2 linked regions of the Homo sapiens genome follow. The gene in region 2 interacts genetically with the main gene of each other region. Each region holds a gene or a part of one and is shown on either strand. Other genes may lie near its edges.

Region 1 (7,464 bases), on a different chromosome or scaffold from region 2:
CACCATGTTGGCCAAGCTGGTCTTGAACTCCTGGCCTCAAGTGATCCACCCACCTTGGCCTCCCAAAGTGCTGGGATTACAGGCGTGAGCCACTGCACCCAGCCAACACTGGGTTTTTATGAGCTCTTCATCTAACTCACAGCTCAAAGAATCAGTTTCTTCATCTAAGTCAAGAACTTAGGAACAAAACACCGAGACTGTCATTATTCAAAGTGAAGAATGGACATTGTAACCTCCATCCCAATAAGAAGGTCAGCCCCCTAATAATGAATTCACTCTAACTATAAACAGACTGGGCGCAGTGATTCACGCCTGTAATCCCAGCACTTCGGGAGGCTGAGGTGGGTGGAACACTTGAGATCAGGAGTTCGAGACCAACCTGGCCAACATAGTGAAACCCCACCTCTACTAAAAATACAAAAAATTTAGCCAGGCATGGTGGTACGTTCCTGTAATTCCAGCTACCAGGAGGCTGAGGGAGGAGAATTGCTTGAACCCAGGAGGCAGCAGTTGCAATAAGCTGAGCTTGCACCACTGCACTCCAGCGTGGGTGACAGAGCAAGACTCTGTCTCTTAAAAAAAAAAAAAAAAACTACAAAGAGGCAGGTTCTTCTTCAACTAATTAAGCATGAGCAGCTTCTCATAGCTATATAACTTCTCTGAGTACACTGAGCGTATCCACACTCTTATTCTGTGGGTCTGGCGATCTGGGGTAAACACACTCAGGGTTAGAAATGCACTACAGTTAAATACAGAAAGAGGTATGGAAATATACATATATATATAATAATAGGGATACCTTTTGGCACCTCAGTGTCACTATCCGCTTCTGAATCAGATGCAATCGCATTCTTGCGTTTCATTCGTAAAACTTCATCTTCACTATCACTGCCTCTTGCAGATTCTATAAGGGTAGAATTAGAAGTTCTGCATAATCAGTCGCATTAGTTGAATTTTGTGTTTTAAAAGCAATATTGGAGATAAACAAATTGTGATACAATGGACTACTACTCAGCAATAAAGAGGAATGAACTGCTGATACATGTAACCAATTGGATGAATCAAAAATGCTATATGCCAAGTTAAAGAGGCCAATCTGAAAGACTACATACTTACTGTATAACTCTATTTATATGACATTTCCAAAAAACCAAAAGTTTAGTGACAGAAAAGACCAGTAGGTGCCAGGGTTTAGGGGTAGCAGAAAGATACGACTCAAAAGGGATAGCATAAGGGAGTTTTTCAGTGTGACAGCGATTCTGCATCCTGAGTGTGGTGGTGGTTAGACAAATCTATAGATATGTTAACATGAATAGAGCTGTACATGCAGAACATGCCCCCCCCCCAAAAAATTAACTCTAGTGTGTGTTAATTTAAAAAACAGAATTCTTAAAATAAATACTGGTGCCAGTTGTGGTGGCTCATGCCTGTAATCCCAGCACTTTGAGAGGACGAGGTGGGTGGATCACTTGAGGTCAGGAATTCAAGACCAGCCTGGCCAACATGGTGAAACCCATCTCTACTACAAATACAAAAATTAGCCGGGTGTGGTAGCGTGCACCTGTAGTCCCAGCTACTTAGGAGGCTGAGGCAAGAGAATCATTTGAACCTGGGAGACTGATGGTGCAGTGAGCCAAGATCGCACCACTGCACTCCAGCCTGGGTGACAGAGCGAGACTGTCTCAAATAAATAAATATACTGGCTTTGCAAGTACAAAAACTTGGTAGAAATGAGAAAAGTAGCACTAAAACTTATCAAATTTACATAAGACAAATTTCAGGGAAAAAAAGGTAAAAAGATTAAAAAGGAACTGACAAATATATCATTATTTCTAGAAGGGCCAATTATTTACGTAAAAATGTCACAAAAATCAACAGAACCACTGTTGAACTAGTAAGAGATAAGCAGAATGACCAGCTACAAGGTTCCCTACTATGACCCTGCCCTTGACTTGGTCTTCTAGTATTTGGGATGTAGTACATGAGCCTTAAAGATTCTTTCTGGTAACAGTAAAAACAGCCCTACTTTCGGCCAGGCATGGTGGCTCTTGCCTGTAATCCCAGCACTTTGGGAGGCCAAGGTGGGCAGATCACCTGAGATCAGGAGTTCGAGACCGGCCAGGCCAACATGGGGAAACTTCCTCTCTACTACAAATACAAAAATTAGCTGGGTTTGGTGGTGCACACCTTTAATCCCAGCTACTCAGGAAGCTGAGGCAGAAGAATTGCTTGAACCCAGGAGGTGGAGATTGCAGTGAGCCAAGATGGTGCCACTGCACTCCAGCCTGGATGACAGAGACTCTGTCTCAAAAAAAAAAAAAAAAAAAAAATGAGTGGCCGGGCGCAGTGGCTCACGCCTGTAATCCCAGCACTTTGGGAGGCCGAAGCAGGCGGATCACGAGGTCAGGAGATCGAGACCATCCTGGCTAACACGGTGAAACCCTGTCTCTACTAAAAATACAAAAAATTAGCCGGGCGTGGTGGCGGGTGCCTGTAGTCCCAGCTACTCGGGAGGCTGAGGCAGGAGAATGGCGTGAACCCAGGAGGCGGAGCTTGCAGTGAGCTGAGATCATGCCACTACACTCCAGCCTGGGAGACAGAGCGAGACTCCGTCTCAAAAAAAAAAAAAGGATGAGTTCATGTCCTTTGCAGGGACATGAGGGACATGGATGAAGCTGGAAACCATCATTCTCAGCAAACTATCACAAGGACAGAAAACCAAACACCGCATGTTCTCACTCATAGGTGGGAACTGAGTAATGAAAACAGTTGGACACAGGGCAGGGAACATCACACACCGGGGCCTGTCATGGGGTGAGGGGCAGGGGGAGGGATAGCATTAGGAGAAATGCCTAATGTAAATGACGAGTTGATGGGTGCAGCACACCAACATGGCACATGTATACCTATGTAACAAACCTGCACGTTGTGCACATGTACCCTAGAACTTAAAGTGTTAAAAAAAAAAAAAAAACCTCTACTCTGAATTAGTTATTGAAAACTTACTGCAGTCCCATAGTCTACACAGATCTATATTCATCTCTGGAAATATGCTGCCCTCCTCTTCTAATAACACCAAGATGTGGTTTCTGAATCCTGTCCTGTGAGGTGTGTGTTAGATGCCCTCATATTTAAGCTAAGAAGATAGGATCAAAATATAATTAATATAATCAATCACCTATGGAAATGAAGCAATCCAGGTATTTCAGGAAGACTTCAACTTAATTAAGGTAACTTTTATATAATACAAAGAAATATGATCTCTAATTTTTTGTACATTCTATATGAAGAATGTGTTAACTTGAGCAGAATAGTCTAAATGGCAATGATAAAAGCAGGTCCAGGAACCAAAGTTCAGGTGTATGCCTCCTGTAGTCTTTAGGGAATGAGTGCTGTAACCCAAGCTCGTCTCTGTAGGGTGAGGATACACCCATCAATCTGTCTTGGCTCAGTAACACTGTCCATTGAGATCACCCAGCCATGTTTGCACTTTCTACATATTATACTCCCTGGGCAACCTCCTGATTATTATAATTTGCCATCCACGCTAGATTTGCCCCCGGGGAAACATATGGGGTGATAAGGGAGAAATAACTGATCCTCTTGAAACAATTTTGCAATTCAATTTTATACATTAATATCTTGTAAATTTGACTAGTTTGAGTAAACTCCTTAGAGCTTGACCATCTCTGGATGATCAAATTTTGGATCTCAAAAAGCTGAGCTGCAGCAATGGTGCCCACATCTCAGTACAGCTGCTCTGTGGGGACACTTCAATGGTATGGTTTTTTTCCCCAGGCTAATCTATTCTCTCACATGAGGCATGCTCTTCAGTTATCCACAGAAATGGAATCAACTTAACTCATTATCAGCTCTTCTTACACCATATCCCTCCCTCTAAGACTCAATTTTAAGTCCTCTTTAAATTGTTTTCCCCCAGACCTATCCATTAACAAATGGAAGGGAAAGGAGTAAGAAAGAATAAGTGGATTAGAAAGATTTAAAAGAAGCAAAATGTATTCTAGAGTTAGAAAAGTTTGAAAGGGAGGGGACAGAAGAGAAAAAACAGGGTAATAAAGATGGGAATAAAGACTAAATGGGTCCCTGCTGTATCTGAATGCTTCTTTCTGAGCCATTCTGGTTCTCATAAATGTATTACCTGATTTATGATCCTGTTCCTCTTCATCATCTGAATGCCTGTGTTCTTCATCTGAGGCCTGTGGCCTTTCATCATCAGAATTTTGCATTTTCTCTTCATCAGACAGCTGTGGTTGTTCTTCATCATCAGAATTCTGTTTCTCATCATCATTATCAGAAGCTACCGGCCGTTCATCATCAGAATTAGCCTTTTCCTCCTCAGATAGCTGTTGTCTCTCATCATCGGAAAGCTGAGGCCTCTCCTCATCATCTGTGTTCTGCATTTTCTCATCATCGTCAGAATTCTGCAGCTTATCTTCATCAGATCCTTGTGCCCTCTCCTCATCATCAGAATTTTGTATCTTTTCATCATCTGACTGGTCACTTTTATCTTCTCTGCCCCATTTTTCATCATCTGAATGTGCTTTTTCAGAACCTTCTGCTTCTGAATGATGGCTCCCTCCATCCGATCTATGACCTTCGTCTTCATCATCATTAGGGGCTTCTGATCCACTGTGCTGATCTACATCTGAGGGGTCATTGTCCTCATGGTCAGAACGCTCAGAAGCTTCTGATCTATTGTCTGATCTTTCAGAGTGATTATCACTACCACTATGATGTGAAGCTCCCTCGTCCTCACTGTCATCTCCAAACAGTTCCTTATTACTTGGTTGTCCTGAATCACCTCTTTCATCCTGATCACTTTCACTTCCAGAGGCATTACTGCCAGAGGCAGCATTCTCTTGATCAGAATCTGAGTCAGATCCAGAATCAGAATCTATGGGGTCATATAAACATAGGATAACATAAGCAAAAAAAGGCAGAGTAAGGCAGTCCCAAAGTCCATCCCAACATAAAAGCAATGAAGAAACTGGCAAAAACTGTTAGAATTAACATTCTAAGGCCGGGTGCAGTGGCTCACGCCTGTAATCCCAGCACTTTGGGAAGCCGAGGCAGGCAGATCACCTGAGGTCAGGAGTTCGAGACCAGCCTGACAAACATAGCGAAACCCTGTCTCTACTAAAAATACAAAATTTAGCCAGGCATGGTTGCACATGCCTGTAATCCCAGCTACTCAGGAGGCTGAGACAGGAGAATCACTTGAACCCGGGAGGCAGAAGTTGCAGTGAGCGGAGATCAAGCCACTGCACTCCAGCCTGGGCGACAGAGTGAGACTTTGTCTCAAAGAAAAAAAAGAAAAAGAAAAAGAAAAATATATTTACTAAAATCAAAGAGTCACTAGAGGGGCTCAACCAAAGATTTGAGCAGGAAAAAGAAAGAATCAGTAAACTTGAAGATACCTCAGTTCGACTGTCCAATCTGAGAAACAGAAAGAAAAAAGAATAAAGAGAAAGGAACGGAGTCTAGAAGATTTATGGGACACCTTAAGTTATACCAATGTATGCATAATGGAGTCTCAGAAGAAGAGAAATGAGCAGAAAAAGATTCTTAAATAATAGCTGAGGCCAGGCATGGTGGTTCACACCTGTAATCCCAGCACTTTGGGAGGCCAAGGCGGGCAGATCACTTGAGGTCAGGAGTTCGAGACCAGGCTGGCCAACATGGCAAAACCCCATCTCTACTAAAAATACAAAAGTTAGCCAGGTATGGTGGCGCAAGCCTGTAATCCCAGCTACTTGAGAGGCTGAAACAGGAAAATCGCTTGGATCCAGGAGGTGGAGGTTGCAGTGAGCCGAGACCACACCATTGCACTCTAGCCTGAGTGACAAAGCGAGACTCTGTCTCAAAAGAATAAATAAATGATAGCTGAAGAACTCCCAAATTTATGAAAAATATAGATCTACACATCCAACAAGTTCAACAAATGACAAGTAGGATAAACTTACAGAGGTTTACACCTAGAAACATTGTTATCAGACTGTCAAAGACAAAGAAACAATTCCAAAAGCGGGCAAAAGAGAAGCAGTTCATCCCATATGAGGAACGCTCAATAAGAGTAACAGCTGATTTTTCATCAGAAACCAAGGAATCCCAGAGCCATCCATAAGAGGACACATTCAAAGTGCTAAAAAGAAAGACTGTCAACCAAGAATTTTATATTCAGTAAAATTATGCTTCAAAAACTAAGACGATATGGAAGACAAAAGAAAACATAAATTGGACTTCCACAAAATGAAAAACTTTTGTGCAGCAAAGGACGTTATTAAGAAAGTAGGCCCGGCGCAGTGGCTCATGCCTGTAATCCCAACACTTTGGGAAGCCAAGGTGGCTGGATCACCTGAGGTCAGGAGTTTGAGATCAGCCTGGCCAACATGGTGAAACCCCATCTCTACTAAAAATACAAAAATTAGCCAGGCATGGTGGCTTACGCCTGTGAGCCCACTACTTGGGAGGCTGAGGCAGGACAATCGCTTGAACCCAGGAGATGGAGGTTGCAGTGAGCCAAGATCATAGCACTGCACTCCAGCCTGGGCAACAGACCAAGACTCCATCTCAAATAAATAAATAAATACATAATATTGCTAAGTTAAGTTCAAAACTGGTTAATGTCTTAGAGGACAATAAAATCTTTTGGCTGGGTGCGGTGGCTCATGCCTGTAATCTCAGCACTCTAGGAGCCCAAGGTGGGAAGATCACCTGAGGTCAGGAGTTCCAGACCAGCCTGACCAACATGGTGAAACCCTGTCTACTAAAAATACAAAAATTAGCTGGGCATGGGGGCACACGCCTGTAATCCCAGCTACTGGGAATAATGAGGCATAAGAATCCCTTAAACCTAGGAAGCGGAGGTTGCAGTGAGCCGAGATCGTGCCACTGCATGAAAGGGGAGACTCTGTCTCCAAAAAAAAAAAGTAAGTGAAGGCCAGGCGCAGTGGCTCACGCCTGTAATCCCAGCACTTTGGGAGGCTGAGGTGGGTGGATCACGAGGTCAGGAGTTTGAGAACAGCCTGGCCAATATGGTGAAACCCCATCTCTACTAAAAATACAAAAATTAGCCAGGCGTGGTGGTGCATGCCTGTAGTCCCAGCTACTTGGGAGGCTGAAGCAGAATAATCACTTGAACCCAGAAGGCGGAGGTTGCTGTAAGCCGAGATTGCGCCACTGCACTCCAGCCTGGGCGACAGAGCAAGACTCCGTCTCAAAAAAAAAAAGGAAAGTGAAAAAACAACCTACAGAATGGAAGAAAATATTTGCAAACCATGTATCTGATAAGTGTCTTTATCCAAAATATACAAAGAACATTTATAACTCAACAATAAAACCAATTTCTTTGTGTTTTTTGTTCGTTTGTTTTCTTGGAGACAGAGTCTCGCTCTATCCTTCAGGCTGGAGTACAGTGGTGCAATCTTGGCTCACTGCAACCTC
Region 2 (7,464 bases):
CTCTTAGTTTTAGTCATAATAACCCCAAAACTGAAAACAACCAGGATGTCCATCTATAGGAGACTAGATAAATGGATATAGTCATACAATGTAGTATTACTGAGCCAAGAAAAAAAAAGGAATTAACTACTGATTTATCCAACAACATGGATAAATCTCAAAAATATCATGCGGAATAAAGAAGGCTTGCACAAAAAAGTAAAATCAAGAATGATCCCACTTACATGGATTACTATGCCAGACACAACTAATCTATCGTGGGAAAAAGTTCTTTGGGGTATAGGGACTGGGACTGCCTGGAAAGGAGCATGAAAGAAACTCCTGGGGTGACAGTGAAGTTATAAACCTTGAAAGAGGTATGGGTTTCATAGGATAACAAACGTATTAAATGGTACAATTAAGACAAGCATTTCAAGCAATCAATTAATTACGCTGGTACCCTACTCTTCATATTAGAACTAATTTTTTTTGTTTGAGACGTAGTCTTGCTCTGTCGACCAGGCTGGAGTGCAATGGCAGGATCTCGGCCCACTGCAACCTCCGCCTTCTGGGTTCAAGCGATTCTCCCACCTCAGCCTCCCCGGTAGCTGGGATTATAGGTACCCACCATCATGCCCGGCAAATTTTTGTAGAGATGGGGTTTCACCATGTTGGCCACACTGGTCTTGAACTCCTGACTTCAGGTGATCCGCCCATCTCGGCCTCCCAAAGTGCTGGGATTACAGGTGTGAACCACTGCACCCGGCCTCAGAACTAATTTTACCTTAAAATTTTACCTAAAAGCCAGGTGCGGTGGCTCACACCTGTAATCCCAGCACTTTGGGAAGCGGAGGTGGGCGAATCACAAGGTCAAGAGATAGAGACCAGAGACCAGCTAATTCTAGCACTTTAGGAGGCCGAGGTGGGCAGATAATCAGGTCAGGAGATCAAGGCTGTCTTGGCCAACATGGTGAAACCCCGTCTCTACTGAAATACAAAAAAAATTAGCCAGGTGTGGTGGCACATGCCTGTAATCCCAGCTACTTGGGAGGCTGAGGCAGGGGAATCGCTTGAACCTGGGAGGCGGAGGTTGTGGTGAGCTGAGATCTCGCCACTGCACTCCAGCCTGGCGAAAGAGCAAGACTCCATCTCAAAAAAAAAAAAAAAGAAAGAGACCATCCTGGTCAGCATGGTGAAACCCCGTCTCTACTAAAATTACAAAAATTAGCTGGGCTTGGTGGCGTGTGCCTGTAGTCCCCGCTATTCGGGAGGCTGAGGTGGAAGAATCGCTTGAACCTGGGAGGTGGAGGTTGCAGTGAGCCAAGATTGTGCCACTGCACTCCTGCCTGGTGACAGAGCGAGACTCCGTCTCAAAAAAAAAAAAAAATGCCGAGCATGGTGGCTCATGCCTGTAATCCCAGCACTTTGGGGGGCCGAGGCAGGCGGATCATGAGGTCAGGAGATCGAGACCATCCTGGCTAACACGGTGAAACCCCGTCTCTACTAAAAATACAAAAAAAAATTAGCCGGCCGTGATGGCGGGCGCCTGTAGTCCCAGCTACTTGGGAAGCTGAGGTAGGAGAATGGTGTGAACCCGGAAGGCGGAGCTTGCAGTGAGCCGAGATGGCACTCCAGCCTGGGTGACAGAGCAAGCCTCGTCTCAAAAAAAAAAAATTACCTAAAGAACCTTAAAACAGTAAATTGTAAGTCAGTGTTATGTAAGAGGGGTGAGGTATACCGATGTGTACACCTACAACATACTTTGAAATGCATCAAGAAAAATTTGATGGAAAAACTTTACAGAGATTATCTTGGGTTTGAAAAATAAAAGAAAACCTGATAGATACATAATATAATAAGATGTTAATTGTAGAATCTAGGTCGTTGGTATTATATAAATGGGTGTTCACGGCACAATTCTTTCAACTTTTGTGTTTATTTATTTTTGAGATGGAGTCTTGCTCTGTCGCCCAGGCTGGAGTGCAGTGGCGCTGTCTTGGCTCACTGTAAACCTCTGCCACCGGGTCAGCAATTCTCCTGCCTCAGACACTGAGTAGCTGGGATTACAGGTCTGTACCCACCATGCCAAGCTAATTTTTGTATTTTCAGCAGACATAGCGTTTCACCATGTTGGCCAGGTTGGTCAAGAACTCCCAGCCTCAGGTGATCTGCCCACCATGGCCTTCCAAAGTGCTGGGATTACAGGCGTGAGGCACCACGCCTGGCCAACTTTTGTGTTTAAAAACTGCTATAACAGGCCAGGTGCAGTGGCTCACACCTGTAATCCCAGCACTTTGGAAGGCCCAGGTGGGCAGATCACCTGAGGCTGGGAGTTCCAGACCAGACTGACCAACACGGTGACACCTCGTCTCTACTAAAAATACAAAAATTAAGTGGGTGTGGTCACTCACACCTGTAGTCACAGCTACTTGGCAGGCTGAGGCAGGAGAATGAACACAGGAGGCGGAGGCTGCAGTGAGCTGAGATCGTGCCACTGCACTTCAGCCTGGGCGACAGAGTGATACTCTGTCTCAAAAACAAACAAGCAAAAAAAACCCTGCTATAACAAAATGCTGTTTTGTTGGGAGAATATATAAAGTCTCCCTTTTCTCTCTTCCATTTACATAGTACCCATATATACATCTCTATCACACACATAAGTATTGTTAATAATTTCATGTATAGTCTTTCAGTTTGTTTATGCATATATAAGCAAAATCAAATAATACATTATTTTTTCTTTTCAAAAAGAAATTAGTATAGATTCTATAGATTCTATTCTGAATTTTGTTTTTTTTTCTCTTAATATTTCTTGGAGAGCTTACCATTGTCAGTACATTGAGAGCATCTTCATTCTGAATAGATACGTTATAATTTTTTTTTTTTTTTTTTTTTGAGATGGAGTTTTGCTTTGTTGCCCAGGCTGAAGTGCAATGGTGCGATCTCGGCTCACCACAACCTCCACCTCCTGGGTTCAAGTGATTCCCCTGCCTCAGCCTCCTGAGTAGCTGGGATTACAGGCATGCGCCACCATGCCTGGCTAATTTTGAATTTGTAGTAGAGACGGGGTTTCTCCATGTTGGTCAGGCTGGTCTCGAAATCCCGACCTCAGCTGATCCGCCCGCCTCGGCCTCCCAAAGTGCTGGGATTACAGGCATGAGCCACCGTGCCTGGCCAATTTTTTTTTTTTAATGTAGTCACTCAGTGGACATTTAGGTTCCAAACTTTGCTACTGCAAAACTACAATCAATGTTTCAAAGGTGATTTTCTTTTTTTTTTTTTGAGACAGTCTCGCTCTGTTGCCCAGGCTGGAGTGCAATGGCACAGTCTGGGCTCACTGCAACCTCCACCTCCCAGTTTCAAGTGATTCTCCCTGCCTCAGCCTCCCAAGTAGCTGGGATTACAGGCACCCGCAACCATGCCTGGGTAATTTTTATATTTTTAGTAGAGATGGGGTTTCGCCATGTTGGCCAGGCCAGTCTCGAGCTCCTGACCTCAGGTGATCCACCCCCCTCAGCCTCCGAAAGTGCTGGGATTAGGGCGTGAGCCACGGCGCCCAGCCTCAAAGGTGAATTTCTTTCTTTTTTTTTTTTTTTTGAGGAGTCTCGCTCTGTCGCCCAGGCTGCTGGAGTACAGTGGCGCAATCTCGGCTCACTGCAAGCTCCGCCTCCCAGGTTCACGCCATTCTCCTGCCTCAGCCTCCCGAGTAGCTGGGACTACAGGTGCCTGCCACCACGCCCGGCTAACTTTTGTATTTTTAGTAGAGATGGGATTTCACCCTGTCAGCCAGGATGCTCTCGATCTCTTGACCTCGTGATCCACCTGCCTCAGCCTCCCTAAGTGCTGGGATTACAGGCGTGAGCCACCGCGCCCCGCCTCAAAGGTGAATTTCTAAACAAATGCTTAATTAAAATTACAATGTTATTTACTCTTTTACTTCTTATATTTGACCTATTTGACCCTTCAAAAATACAAATGCTTCAAATCCATTAAAATCATACACAGGTCTGTCAGCCCATTAAATATAACACGCAGACAGCCAAGTAGCAATTTTTTCAGCAAAAAGCTCCCACAAAATTCGATCACACTAGTTAGGCTATCGTCTATGTCAGGCAAGCCAAGCCTCATAAAACTGTATATATCTGTAGTCAAGTAGGCCAGGTAAACATTGACTCTCAACATCATTCTGTTCTGTAATATTGGCCAAATATTTATTGCAAATATCAGGCCCTCAACACTGAAGATAAAGTGCACTGCTATTAAGTGTCCAATATGAAGTACAATGAGATAATCAAATCCATTTTTTAATTAATTTCCTTTATTATAGACAAAATGAATTACTAAATTTACTAATTAAATTTAATACTTTGCTTAAACAAGTACTATTCACACTTTTTCATGAAGGACCTCAATCCACAGTATTTTTGTAAAACAGAATAACAATGTTATGGCAATGTCAAATTGCTATAAAAGTTTCTAATTACTCTTTTTTTTTTTTTTTTTTTGGAGACAGAGTCTCACTCTGTCACCCAGACTGGAGCAGTGCAGTGGCGCAATCTTGGCTCACTGCAACCTCTGCCTCCTGGGTTGGAGCAACTCTCCTGCCTCAGCCTCCTGAGTAGCTGGAATTACAGGTGTGCGTCACCATACCTGGCTAATTTTTGTATTTTTAGCAGAGATGGGGTTGCACCATGTTGGCCAGGCTGGTCTTGAACTCCTGACCTCAGGTGATCCACCCACCTCAGCCTCTTAGAGTGTGGGGATTACAGGCGTGAGCCACTGCGCCCGGCCAATTACTCATTTTTTGAACTTAATGTATAACAAACACAAACACATAGTTTGGAGATAAGTGGGCAAACCACACTTTGAGTAGCACTGATTCAGACCGTAAGCAGGACTAACATTTTTAAGTTCCTTCAATTAGCTAGTCATAAATCAATCCAAACACATCATCGAAATTTAGAAAAAAAATTAATTTACCTTGGGAAAATATTTGTATAATCCCATGTACGCAAGTTGTAAAGTAAGAAATGGAGCAAATATGGACTGTGAAGATAGAAGATAAAATTAAATATTTCCAACATAATCATTCAAATCACAATAAATCAAACAGCAGCTAGAAAATTCCAAGCAAAAGCTGTAAGAAAATGTTGTTATTATTATTTTTTGAGACGGAGTCTTCCTCTGTCACCCAGGCTGAGTGCAGTGGCACGATCTTGGTTCATGGCAACATCCACCTCCCAGATTCAAGCGATGCTCGTGCCTCAGCCTTCTGAGTAGATGGGATTACAGGCGCCCGCCACCACACCTGGCTAATTTTTGTATTTTTAGTAGAGACAGGGTTTCACCATGTTGGCCAGTATGGTCTAGAACTCCTGACCTCGTGATCCACCCACCTCGGCCTCCCAACATGCTGGGATTACAGGTATGAGACACCGCGCCTGGCAATTGCTTTTTTTTTTTAAGATGGAGTCTCGCTCTGTCACCCAGGCTGGAGTGCAGTGGCTCAATCTCAGCTCACTGCAACCCCTGCCTCCCCAGTCCAAGCAATTCTCCTGCCTCAGCCTCCCATAAAATAGTAATTTTAATGGTTAAAAGTAATCTTTTTTCTGCAGAAGGGTGAAGAAAATAAAATATTTGATTTCCTAACATAAAATATGTTTCTCAAGTCATACAATTCTTTCATATTCTTTTAGCGTCCCCAAAACTGTCTTCTCTCATAAAAACTTATCTTTTAAATTATTTAAAGTATTAAATGGTGACAGATGTTTAACACAGTAACACAGATGCGGTAACATCTCGGTCACCCAGAGGGAATTAATTGATATCCAGGAAGCATACAGAAAAGGCCCAGCACTCAAAATACGTGGCATTCTTCCAGCTATGCAGAAGGCTGAGGCAGGAGGACTGCTTGAGCCCAGAAGTTCTAGTCCAGCCTGGACACCATAGCAAGATCCTATCTCTAAAACAACAACAACAACAAAACTAAATGCTTGGCTGGGTGCGGCGGCTCATGCCTGTAATCCCAGCACTTTGGGAGGCAGAGTTGGGTGGATCATGAGGTCAGGAGATGGAGACCATCCTGGCTAACACGGTGAAACCCCATCTCTACTAAAAATACAAAAAATTAGCCGTGCGTGTTGGCACATGCCTGTAGTCCCAGCTACTCGGGAGGCTAAGGCAGGAGAATCGCTTGAACCCAGGAGGTGGAGGTTGCAGTGAGCCAAGATCACATCACTGCACTCCAGCCTGGCGAAAGAAACTCCACCTCAAAAAAAAAAAGATTTACAAAAACTGTTTTGCTTAATGATATAAACTTTAATTATCTGGATATTTATGTGCCTGGTACATATACTTAAAATGTCTACTGAATGGAAAAACCTCAGAGCAAGACACTGAACTATGAGCTATGCTTTTCTGCATTCTTTAATATACTATAAAACAAAATGACTACATCATGGTACAACCAAAATGGACTCATTATGATATATTAGGAAATGCTGAAATGTCTTCTGAACCATAGGAAGATTACCTCATATTCAGGACCAGAGGAACTGCATTTTACTATTTCAAATTATTTGAAAATTGATAATATACAGTATATATATGTAAAGCACTTAACCCTTTGGTTAAGGACTGAAACTGCCAGGGTTTAATCCTAGCACCGCTTAGTAGCTGTGTGACCTTGGGCAAATGGTTTAACCTCTCTGAGTCTTCATTTCCCAATGGATTCACATAATACCAAGTTCATAAGAATGAGGATTAGATGAATTAATGTATGCAAAACAATGAGAAAGGTCCGTAGAATGAAAAATGGGTTTTAGTACAGTCATCCCTCAGTATCAGCAGAGGACTGGTACCAGGTTCCTCCTGATACCAAAATCCATAGATGCTCAAGTCCCTTATGTAAAACGGCACAGTAAATATAACCTACTCACTTCCTCCCATATACTTTAAATCATTTCTAGATTTTTTATGCCTAATGCAATGTAAATAGTTGTTATACTGTTTTTATTTGTATTATTTACTATTTGTTATTGTTGTATTGTTATTTTTCCCCCAAATATATACACATACATATATTTTTGAGACGGGGTCTCACTCTGTCACCCAGGCTGGAGTGCAGTGCCGTTATCCTGGCTCACTGCAACCTCCACCTCCCGGGTTCAAGCGATTCTCCTGCCTCAGCCTCCCAAGTAACTGGGATTACAGGCGTGCACCACCACGCCCGGCTAAATCCAAATATTTTCAATCCACAATTGGTTGAATCCACATAGGGTGCAGAACCAACTGATATGGAGGGCCAACAGTAATTATTAGGCTCTGTATTTAACCAGAACACTTCATTCTATGAGATGAATAGCAAAGTTAATAATATATCTTCAAACAGCCACATGGATCTGGTAGATATTAATACTGGCAATGACTTCTATGATCAAAAGCACTCATAATTATTAACATTTTGCATTTTCCATTAAGTTAGTT

What was found. A genetic interaction does not mean that the proteins touch.
Region 1: changes in CAMLG (region 2) and LEO1 impair growth when combined (synthetic growth defect), as found in Homo sapiens cells (one study listed by BioGRID).

The regions. Positions count from the first base shown.
Region 1 is NC_000015.10:51,961,590-51,969,053, forward strand, and holds part of LEO1 (RNA polymerase-associated protein LEO1), read right to left. Parts: intron 4,916-7,464; coding exon 4,160-4,915; intron 905-4,159; coding exon 800-904; intron 1-799. UniProt on the Homo sapiens protein: Component of the PAF1 complex (PAF1C) which has multiple functions during transcription by RNA polymerase II and is implicated in regulation of development and maintenance of embryonic stem cell pluripotency.
Region 2 is NC_000005.10:134,741,548-134,749,011, reverse strand, and holds part of CAMLG (guided entry of tail-anchored proteins factor CAMLG), read right to left. Parts: intron 5,026-7,464; coding exon 4,960-5,025; intron 1-4,959. UniProt on the Homo sapiens protein: Required for the post-translational delivery of tail-anchored (TA) proteins to the endoplasmic reticulum.